Linked DNA regions of Homo sapiens: region 2 is linked to region 1. The links come from fine-mapping of genetic effects on gene expression. A gene starts in region 1. The other region holds a variant in brackets. All regions are shown on one strand. Distances are from middle to middle. Region 1 holds the start of BCL9 (BCL9 transcription coactivator). Region 2 overlaps BCL9 (BCL9 transcription coactivator).

What was found.
Region 2: its variant is fine-mapped to the expression of BCL9 in whole blood (TOPMed, PIP 0.97).

The regions. Positions count from the first base shown.
Region 1 is chr1:147,539,346-147,544,722 of GRCh38, reverse strand. BCL9 (BCL9 transcription coactivator) reads right to left here and starts at 3,222. Exons shown (of 10, transcript NM_004326.4): 1 at 3,049-3,222. RefSeq lists enhancers at 3,177-3,236, 2,797-3,551, 3,270-3,564.
Region 2 is chr1:147,596,210-147,601,586 of GRCh38, reverse strand. The region is part of intron 1 of BCL9 (BCL9 transcription coactivator); the gene reads right to left. Among named protein-coding and RNA genes, the nearest start is that of BCL9, 57 kb to the right of the region's middle. RefSeq lists silencers at 1,098-2,147, 2,178-2,257 and an enhancer at 5,051-5,377. The variant G/A (reference allele first, on the strand shown) is at 2,924.

The DNA.
Region 1 (5,377 bases):
GTAGGATATGTGTCCTTGCTGGGAGGGGTAGGAAAGGTCATTTTATTATATTGTCTTTGGAATTCCAAGATGACAGTGATAATGGTGGAGTCTCTTGCAGCTGAGTGTTTAGTACCAGCCCTGGAAGAACGATGGAATCAGTAAAACGAGATCAGAGTCTCACTAACCACGGTCAACATGAATTATCCAGGTAACAATGTTAGGCTGCTCACTACAAGAGTGAAGTTACTTCATGGCACAAGTGTAGGGGATTAGCAGATATTATTTGTTGGTCTGTGTGCTAAGAAAAAGAGAGAGAGTGAAGGATGGTGAGAGAGGGAAGGAGAATTTTCTGCTCTTTGGAATTGCTGGGCTCCCTGTGAATAGGAATGGCACCAGTGGAATGGAGGTTGGCTGGGGCAAGGGGAACTCAGCCACACAGAGAAAGAGAACAGTTAGCTTATGTCTAGTTACACACTTTGAGTCAATAACTTATGCAACTCTATGCACTCCGTCATAATACTTGCATGCTATTCAACAAGTATCATCAATATTATGATTACTGGTTTGTGTGACCATGTGGTTAATGTTGATCATACCAACAAGACTGTAAGTTCCCTGAGGGCAGGGGTATATCTGCCTTTCTCTTCCTATATCCTCAGTGCCCAGTATTTGCCTGCTGCAGAGTAAAGAGCCCCAAAATATAAGTTGAATGAACAAATGAATACATGAATGAATTTATGCAAATTCATGTTGTGGACCCATGTTTGCATATTTGTACCATTTGATGACATGAGCAGGGCAGAGTGTGCTGCTGTAATCCAGCACAGCAAGCAGAACTACAAAAGGTGCCTCTCTTTGGTTGGCCAAGTGCTGGAGTTTGTAAAATCAAATGTGGGTGTGAGGTAAGGGTACCCGGCATGAAGACCCTTGGGGTACTCTGAACCCCAGGGTGTGGTCTAGATGTTACCACAGCTTTGTTGCACCCGCCTCAGATCAGTGCTTATCTCTCTTGGACCTTAACATCCTCATCTATAACATGATGGAATAACACTTCTTTTTCCTTGCAGTTCTTAAATTCTAACATTTTAGGAAGATATCTGGACCCTGAAATCTTGTCAGGAACAACCATGGTAAGATCTCTGACTATAAAGTAGAAAACAACTAAGTTTTCAGATATATATATGCATAAAATACAGCTTTATTTTAATAAAACCTTAAATGTAGGGGGACCTTCTTGCCAGATCCAGGCCAACTAATGGCTTTCCTTCAGCTTTTCCCATACTCAGAAGTCAGGTTTCCAGGCCTCTGTGAAAAGCACATAAATATTCTCAGCCAGGGCTGGCCCTTTGCTTCAATCTCCAGCTATCACAGGGAGTCAGTCTGATAAACATTTGCAGTTAGAATGGAAGGAGGCACAGCCTCCTAGACTTTTACAGATTTTTTTGGACAAGTAGCAGAGTCACAGAAAACCTAGAATTAGGTAAGAAAGCAGAACTCCTCCAGAGAATTCAGAGAGAGCTACAACTGAGAGCCTTTAAACAATCAATGTGTAGGAACAGAAGAAAGGAAATCCACAATTCAAGAAAATAAGCAGACATTTTTTTTCCTCAAAAAAAATTGTTAAGATGAATGTTAGGCACTGATTTTAGCCCTCTGTTCCATCCCTCAAGATGTCACTTGAAAAAGCAAAAGGTTTTATCCACAAAACCACCGGCGAGTAAACAGCCTTCACATTCTTAGCCTCGTACACACACAGTAAGATATTTACTCTCTGATAAACAGCAATTGTAAATAAATCTCATTTAATCTCTAAAAGCCACAATAAAAATCTTTAACCTCCAAGGTAGAGTTTACAGATGCGTCTGCATGCCCTGCCAGCCCCAGAAAACACAAGGTCTTGAATAAACTACTATACCAGGAGGCACATTTTCTCGCTCAAGCATCTTACATTGACCTTCTTTAAAACAAAAATACGTACAAGGAGGAGGAAAGGGGAAAACCCAACCCCTCCCACCCCATTCTCTGTACAAATCGGCCAATAAATCTAACGAAAAGACACAAGAGAAAAAGGACAGAAGCCAACAGGTGGAACAAGGCTTTTTGTTTCCTTAGAAATGCTCAGACACTTGATCTGTGCTCCTCAGTCTATTTGTCTCAGGGTGTCTTTAATGATGTTTTTATTACCCTGATGATGATGATCAAGAATAATGATAACACTTCTACTCTGTGATTCCACAGCATCTCTAGCTGACGATTTCTCCACGCGTTTCAGACACAGTGATCTGTTCTGTTTCGCTCAATCCCAGGGAGGCATACAGCATCCCTGATCAGCAACCTTGATTTTACAGATGGGGAAATTGAGGCACGGGGCACCCCACAACTCAACAGTCTCTACGACCAGAGGAATCCCTGAGACTGGAAAAGTTTCTGGATCGTCTTGTGGCAGAGTTCTCTTGCTCTCCCTTCTTGCCTGCCATGCCGCTCCTCCTCGGAGAGTCTGGGCTGGGGTGGTAAGGATCGGGGTGCCTCCCCTTCACAGCGAGGCACGCCAGGGCAGTGTGTGGGAAGTCCACACGCACACACAGACCCACGGGCACACTGGCACACACAAAGCTCGATGCAATCTCTGCAGTCACTCGGCGGAGCCCTGGCCGGCCCTTGCTCAGCCTGAGAATGCACAGCTCGGAGCCTGCAAGGCCTCCCTGGGCTCTGGGCTGGGGTTTCCCTGAACCAAGGCTCTGCCCTTCTCTCCCTCTTTTCCAGGCTTCCCTCTCTCGCGCTCCCTCTCTCTCTCTCTTTTCCCTCCCACCCTCACACCCTCCTCCCAGCCCTCTCCATCCACCCCTTCTCCCCCACCAACCCAGAGGCACAGATCGTGTTACTGGGGTTCCCTCGAAAGAGGGGCCATCCCCAGTCCTGGATGCCTTGAAAGACTTCCAGGGGCAACGCAGGAGCTCCAATCGCAGGACCCCAGCGCTCCTCCAGAGCAGCGCAGGAATGAGACCCCCACTTCCAGGCACAGGCGAACAAGCCTGCCACCGAAGAAGGAATTGTTAGGGCTCTTACCTTTTTTATGAGGAGAAATTCTGGAGAATCATTTCAGAAACTGAGGGGGGAAAGTGAATGAAGACAAAAAAGACCCTTTTCCCGCAATCCCTGGCCTCCTGGTATCAAGACACCAGGACAACATCAAAGCAACTTAGGGGGAACACTTTAGGGGCCTATTGTCTGCTCTGGTCTGATCTGTTTTTCTTCTGACTCCCCCTCTTGCTGCGGTGACACTTGGTACGGCCCAGGCATTCATGCCAAGTAGCTTTCACACATGGAAGCTTGTCTCAAGCAATTGCTGACAAGCCACAAACAAGACATTCTCCCTCCCTTCTCTGCGCCCCCCCACTCCTCCCCCCTCCACCTTTTCCTCCTCCCCTCTTGTCTCCCCTCCTCCTTTCTTCTGAATGCAAACTAAAACTCTCCAGTGACAGGCAGGCTCGCAGGCTTGGCCTAGCTGCGCACGCAGGCACACACACACACACACACACACACACACACACACACACACACACTCTCTCTCTCTCTCTCTCTCTCTCTCTCTCTCTCTCTCTCTCTCTCTCTCTCTCTCTCCTCTCTCTCTCTCTCTCTCTTCTCTCTCTCTCTCTTCTCTCTCTCTCTCAAGCAGCTCAGCTAGTTGCTGCTGCACTGGTGGAGTTAAGAGACAGGAAAAAGCCCAGGCTGAGTTGGGGGCAGGGAGAAAAAGAGAGGGAGAGCGAGAGCAGAGAGCCGCCTCCTGTGTCCTAGTAAAATGGCAGAAGAGAGGTGAGTCCTTTGGAAGAAAAGCAGTGGCCACACACGTGTGCACACATACACAGACTCAGGCCATCTCAGCGCCAGGAAAAGTGAAATAAATGACCCGACAAAGGAAAAAGCAAAGTCCCATTAGCTGGAGATTGGGGGAGTAGGGAGATAAGAGGGTGAGTGGCCCCAGGACTGGGGTTTCTGTTGAGTGGTTAGGTGATTTTTCTTCTTTACAATAGAGAAAAATTTGTTTCCTAAGGATCTAGCCTTCTTTCACTGCATAATTGAGCATGGACTTGAGCTACTAGTTAAAATAAAATCATGAAATGTGTAAATGTGTGAGTAAACTTAACTGTAGGTTCAACTTGTACCCAAGATATTTTTAAAGTGAAGCTTTTTTTATTTTTTTTTATTTTTTATTTTAGCAGAAACCCTAGAGAGCAGTAGCAAGGAGAGTAGTAACAAGTAGTGTAAACTAGGAGAGCTGTGAAGTGTGATGCTAAAGTTACTGATTGCCAGGCTGCTGGAATTTATGGAGGGTGGGCCTGAGAGTTGGAGGAGGGGAGGGTGAGTGTGCTGTTTTCTAGGAATAAGAGGGGAATGAGGTAGGATAATGAATATGGCAAGAAACAAGCAGGAATTTGATTGGTGTGGAGGGAGGAGGTGGGGGCTGTAAAGGAGTGGAGAGAGAGAGAGAGAGAGAGAGAGAGAGAGAGAAACAACACTGCATTAAAAAAAGAAGAAAAATGGAAGCCCAGAAAGATTGAAACATGCAGAGTAAATGAGATGGTAAAAGAAGGCATAAAATGTGAGCAAAAAGGAGCACAAAGGATGTGCAAATTTGCAGATGGCATGAAATCAGGAGGGCCAATTGAGATCAGGAAGAAGAATGACAGGATGATTATATGACATTCATATTTTTAGATACTGTGGACTCACAGACCTAACAAGGTCTCCTCTGCCTAGGCCAGAAGAGTTATCCCTATGCAACAGGATCTGAATGGAAGCTTAGCTCCTAACTGCTGCTGAATCAGTTCTGTACTTTTTCATGAAGATTGTTTAGACTCTATTCCTCAGAATCTTCCTTTACAAAATGGAAATTATGAGAACACACATCACTCATTCCTTCATAGGTATGCAGTAAAGAATAAATTATGACTTCTTTCATACTTAACACCAGCTAAATGAGGTGTCACTACCTAAAACTCACCACATCAAAGACACAGACTTGTTCCTGTTATTTTCCCCCTTAATTTGCTCCTCCATTATCCCTGATCCCTGAACTGTCTGTCCCGACTCCCATTAATGATGATGATGTGGTAATATAATAATAATAATAATAACCTTTTTTTAAGTATTTACTTGATTCTTAGCATTTTCCCACTCATTTGTATCATGAAGTAATTTTTGTTATGATCATTTCCATTTACAGATGATAGAAAAACGAGGCACAGAGAGGTTAAGCAACTTGTCTGAGGTCACACAGCAAGGCAGAGGTAGAGCTGAAATCCAACTGAGGCCTGTGTGATTCTAAAGCCCCAGCGTTTACCCGCCATATTATGCCTTCTCACTGGAGTAGTCCAGGTACTCCATGGCACTTCAA
Region 2 (5,377 bases), 57 kb before region 1:
ATGAGTCTTACCTCCAACATCCTTTTGCCCCCTCCTCCCATCTCTCAATGATTTTACAATTTATCCTTACTGTCTGTTAGTTCTAATTCATCACTTTGCTCAGTGCACAAATCCAAATCTCTGCCCCAAAACGAACATTTAATTCCTGAATATATCAAGTGCTAACTAATACTCCAATACCCATCATTGACCAAAATGTAACTCTTTACATAGAAAATCATTTCCCCACTGAAATCACTGCCAGGGATTTACCTATGTTTGCTGTAATCAAAGTCAAATTTTGCATCAATTCTATCCCATCTTACAGACTCTCCACTAAGAGATAGTTATGTCCATTTCTCTAACTTATCTAGTAACTTTATTAGTCCCCAGCTGGACTCCAATCTAGGCTCTAAGTCTCTCCTATCACTAAAAACCCATTTTTCCTTCCCCCTCCTTCAGACCTCTTGGAGGACAGATTTCTGGCCTCCTCCTTCATGCTTGGTAGCCTTCCCATAAGGCCCCCAGCAATACTATTACAGGCCTCTGGCCCCTCCCTCTCCTTCCCTCTGGACATAATAACCAACCCTGCTGTTGTTTTACTTAGGATATCTCCATTTCACCAGGCTCACCCAACACTCATCAGTGACATCTTAATAGTCTTTGCAACTTTCAAAGGCCAGTGACTCAGGCTCCACTTTGGAAATCACTGGTGTGTCCCAAGACCCCCACAATGACTCAGTGACCTAGACATCACCAATTCACCTGCTTGGGCCCTTAACTACTCACACATTCTTCCTAGCTTCCACCTCCCCTACCCTTCAACAAGTCACTGGCCTGCAAAGTCCCCTTTACCTCTATCCATCTCAGGGGTCTTACAGACCTCATCAAACTCAATCCCAATTCCCTTATTTAGCTCTCCATCTCGCCCCTCCAACACTCCTGCATCCCAGGACCCTGGGACTGTCCTCACTCTCCTGGTTTAACCTCTCCAAGCACTGCTTGGGACACAACCTTTGAAAAAAAGAAGAGATGCCCTCTCTCTCCACCGCCCGTGAAGCACCCCCACCTCCCCCCACAGGTTCCTCCAGACTCGCCTCACTAAATCCGCAACCCTGGCCCCCGCCCCTTTTCTGCCCCCCTCCACCCCGCTCTTCGCGGCTGTGGCTACCCCTGCCCCCAAACCGGCTCAAAACACGCGGACGCGGACCTGGCCCCCACTACCCCCGGCTCCGGTCCTTCCCCTCCCCCTCCCCCAGGTGCCACTTACCCCGGAGGCAGGAGTGGGGGAGGGGAGAGGAGGTGCGGAGCAGGGAAAGAGGCTTGGGTCCGGGGCGGCTCTCAGCCCCGCGGGGCCGGGGCCAGCGGCAGCGGCGGCGCAGCGTCTCCCCCCGGCGGCGGCAGCGGCGGCGGCGGCGCCGTCCCACTCCGGCAAGCACACATAGGCTCCATTGTCCGCCGGCGCCTCCCCCTTTCCGGCTCCCCCCTCCCGGTCCCGCCCCTTCCCTCCCTTCGGCCCTCCCCCGCCGCACCGCGCCACGAAAGGTACAGCCGGCCCCGCCTCGGACGCGAGCGGAGGGTGCCCCCTCCCCACCGGCCCGACGTCCCGCCCGCGGGGAACCGGGACCGCCCCGCCCCGCCTCAGCGTCCGGCCCCGCGACCAGCAAGGGCCCGCCCCTCCAGGGAAAGTCGCTCGTGCCCCTTCAGGGAAAGTCGCTCGTCCCCCTCCCCAGACGCGCGCGATGGTACCAACCCGCCGCGGCCTCCTCCCGCCCCCAGCTTCCCGCAGGGCCCTGCCCACCAGGCAGCCGCACCTCCCGCCGCCCCGCCCCCGATATTTTACTACGGGCCCGCCCACCGCCGGCACCACCTCCTGGTTTGCATAGGCACGCCCGCCAGGGCCCGCCCCGGACCGTCACCCGGCTGGAGGGGACGCCCACTCCCCCCTTAAAGCGGCAGAGCTCTAGTCCCCAACTCCAGAGCCTCCTGAGGGGCCGGCGGGGCGGGAGGTTCGGCACGGGAGGGTCTCCTCTTCCCGTCCCCTCCTCCCCACGCGCTCACTCTCCCGGACCTTCCCGCCGCCTCGCGCAGTCCTGGGAGCAACCGAGGGGGGCGGGGGGCCAGGAAAGGCGCGGAGGGGGAAGGGCAGCGTGGAATTTGGCCATCTTTTGACAGAAACGAATTGAAGAGCCGGTCTTTCCCTCACTCTTCCCTGCTGCCCAGGTCCCGGCCTAGCCCTCAACCTTCAAGGCCACCTCCTCACACCTTCGGGACGCAGTTCCACCCCGCTTTCCTGTCCCTTCTCTCCACCTCTGAGTCTGCACCGCCTGGGCCATGGCCGGCTTTCTCCCCTCGCAGGAGAGCAGCCCCCACCCAGGACTGCGCTCTCCTCCGCCCTCTGCGAAGTGCAGGAGTCCCGCTGATGCGCCGGGGGTGCAGGGGTCTCCTTTCACATCCGGCCCAGCCCAGCCTGGCTCAGGCATCGCTGCCTGGTGCCCACAGAGGGAACCTCTGTCCAGGACCTCACGTCGCTTCACAGCCGGGCTAGCTCCCCTAATTTTTCGGAAGACCTCTGCTCTGAAGGGGTCAAAGCCTGAGTATCCCGGCGCTGTTGTGAGAGGGTAGCCCATTAGATTACACTTTTTCTCAGAAGGAAAAAATGACGGCATCATGGTTAGAGCATGTTGCTGAATCAAAGCTCAGATTCGGGCTATTCTGCTCCATCTGTGTGGCCCCGGTTGCTGCGGTGAACAACCGTTATTATAGATCTGTCTGCTCTGCACCCTCCCCAGAATACACTGTTGTTACACCTCTGTCCTTGTGCCTTGTGGGGTCTTGATCTAAGTTAGCTGCTTCGGCAACTGTGTGCACTGACCCCGCAGCTCTTCTGGATCCGTTAGGTGAAGACTGCCCATGTTAGAGTGTACTGCGTGTTCTCCCTGGA[G/A]ACAGATGGAGGCAATATGGCCAGGAGGACGAGATAAATCTTCTGCTCTTGCTTCTATCACCCATGGTTTTAACCAGGGTACTTATTCCTGTGTCAGTTTCCCTTCCTAAAGGAAACCTTCCTTGGGCAACCTTTTAAGGAATGGTGCTAGTTGTAAAGGATGGTCAAGAGAGCCCTAAATGATAAAGCCGATCTGCTTTCGAAATCATTTAAAACTCTTTAACTGGTCAACGTAAGTTACCATAGCCGCCTCCCCTGCTTAGATCCTATGAAAAACTGTGGCAAGGTATTTTCTCTTTGTCTTCTGTCATGACTGAGGATATAAATTAAATAAAGAAGAAAGGCAATAGTTGGTATAAACAATATCAAGATCAATTGAAGAATTCCAAATAGAAAATAATTAAAATGCCTTTTGTCAAGTTTGGGGCATAGAATATTTGATGTAACATAGCTAAGAACCCCTGTAAAAGAAGGCAGGAGGAAAAAGTCAGGTATGGACTTACGGACTTTTCTTATGGTATTAGAAAAGACAACCAAATCAGCAATATGCAAGAAACATTTGGGATTGCTAATGTAGGTGGAAAGAAGGAACTCACAGAACTTGTCTATAAGAGAAAACCACTGCCAAAATAAGCTCTGGCCTGGGGGGAATCCCAGACCAGATCACCTCTGCTCAGCAAGCTCAAAACAAACTCATTAAAACAATAATACACATGTTAAAAGAAAGTCTTAGCCATTTTACTAAGCGTTAAGCCCTCATGCAGCCATTATGTGTCAAAGTTCAAAATTATTATTGAATCAGAAGAAAAATGCAAATGAATATTAAACATACGACACTAGGGTAAAAGAATAATACTATTGAGAATTTAAGCACGCTAAAAAGTCATGAAATCTAAAGGTTAGAGGTTCCATAGAAATGGTAATTTAGCTACATTGCACATGGGATAGAAATGTGTTTTAAACTAGGATTTATTCTATTAAATAGGTTATTTTACTAGAATTTTTGCCCTCTGAATTTTCTACCTTGTATGCATTTTCATCTCACTTGAGAAAGAATTCTATTTTGGTGTATAAGGATTTAACACACTGTATATACATAAACATTAATGGATAATGAAATGCTTTTTTAAAAGCATCCTATGAATAAGAGCTTCAAACTGGTACTGCTACTCTAGAAATTTTAAGATAAGAAATCATTTTTTTACCCAAATGGTAAAATTGCTAAAAATAAAGGATTTTGATGCTAAAGAGACTTGGTTTTGATTTTCTCACTTACTGAAATTTGCTTCTCATAATGATGAGCACTCACTGTGTTGCAAACATAGATGATGTAAGTTTGACTTCTTAGTTCTTTAGCTAATCATAGCATTTATGTTAGGTTTGCCTCCAGTTTTTCCACCTGTAAACTCCACTTTCAAGTTGAGGCAACAAGTGCTTTTGTTTCCTCCGTTCTTGATAAACTTAAACCTAAATTTTAGGATTGGAAGGAATTCCATTCTGTCTTACAGAATGCTAAGGCATAGAAGTTCAATGATTTGCCAAGATTATGCTCAGTTTTAGGGACTAGAATTTGAGTCCAAGACTCCACAGCAGTATTCTAAATTCCAATGATTGTTCATTCCTAACAATATTTATTATTGTAGGAGAGAATATGAAAGTCTTCCTCAGAAATGATGAAACCAAGACTAACAAAGGTTGAGCCCACTCAGCCAGCTAGTATCAGGGTTATAAGAGGGCTTAACAAATTCTTGCCTTGGTCAAAGCCCTCAGCTTGTCCATGGGCTCCTGCTGCTTGTACTATTAATATTTATTACCGATTCATCTACCTCATTGTTCACCAAAACTGGTGAATTTCAGCTCCAAAAGAATACTACCAAGAGAGTCATTAATAATTGAAAATGATGGGTTAGAATGGAATAGCATCTAACCATTAGAAAGTCAGTCTAATCTCGGCCAGGCGCGGTGGCTCACGCCTGGAATCCCAGCACTCTGGGAGGCCGAGGCGGGCGGATCACGAGGTCAGGAGATTGAGACCATCCTGGCTAACACGGTGAAACCCCGTCTCTACTAAAAATACAAAAAATTAGCAGGGTGTGGTGGCCGGCGCCTGTAGTCCCAGCTACCCGGGAGCCTGAGGCAGGAGAATGGCGTGAACCCGGGAGGCGGAGCTTGCAGTGAGCCTAGATCGCTCCACTGCACTCCAGCCTGGGCGACAGAGCGAGACTCCGTCTCAAAAAAAAAAAAAAAGAAAAGAAAAAAAAGAAAGTCAATCTAATCTCTTGACTTTCATAGTGCTGTGCCCCAATGCTGTAATAACATAGCCAGGAAATTATTTCTTTTTAGGTTTTCCAGGCAAAAGAAACAAATCTCCTTATCCTACCTTTCACCAGTCTATTGAAGTCAATGGGGGAGTCCCAGAGCTTCATCCCTGGCTGGAAAATTTAAAACTAATTG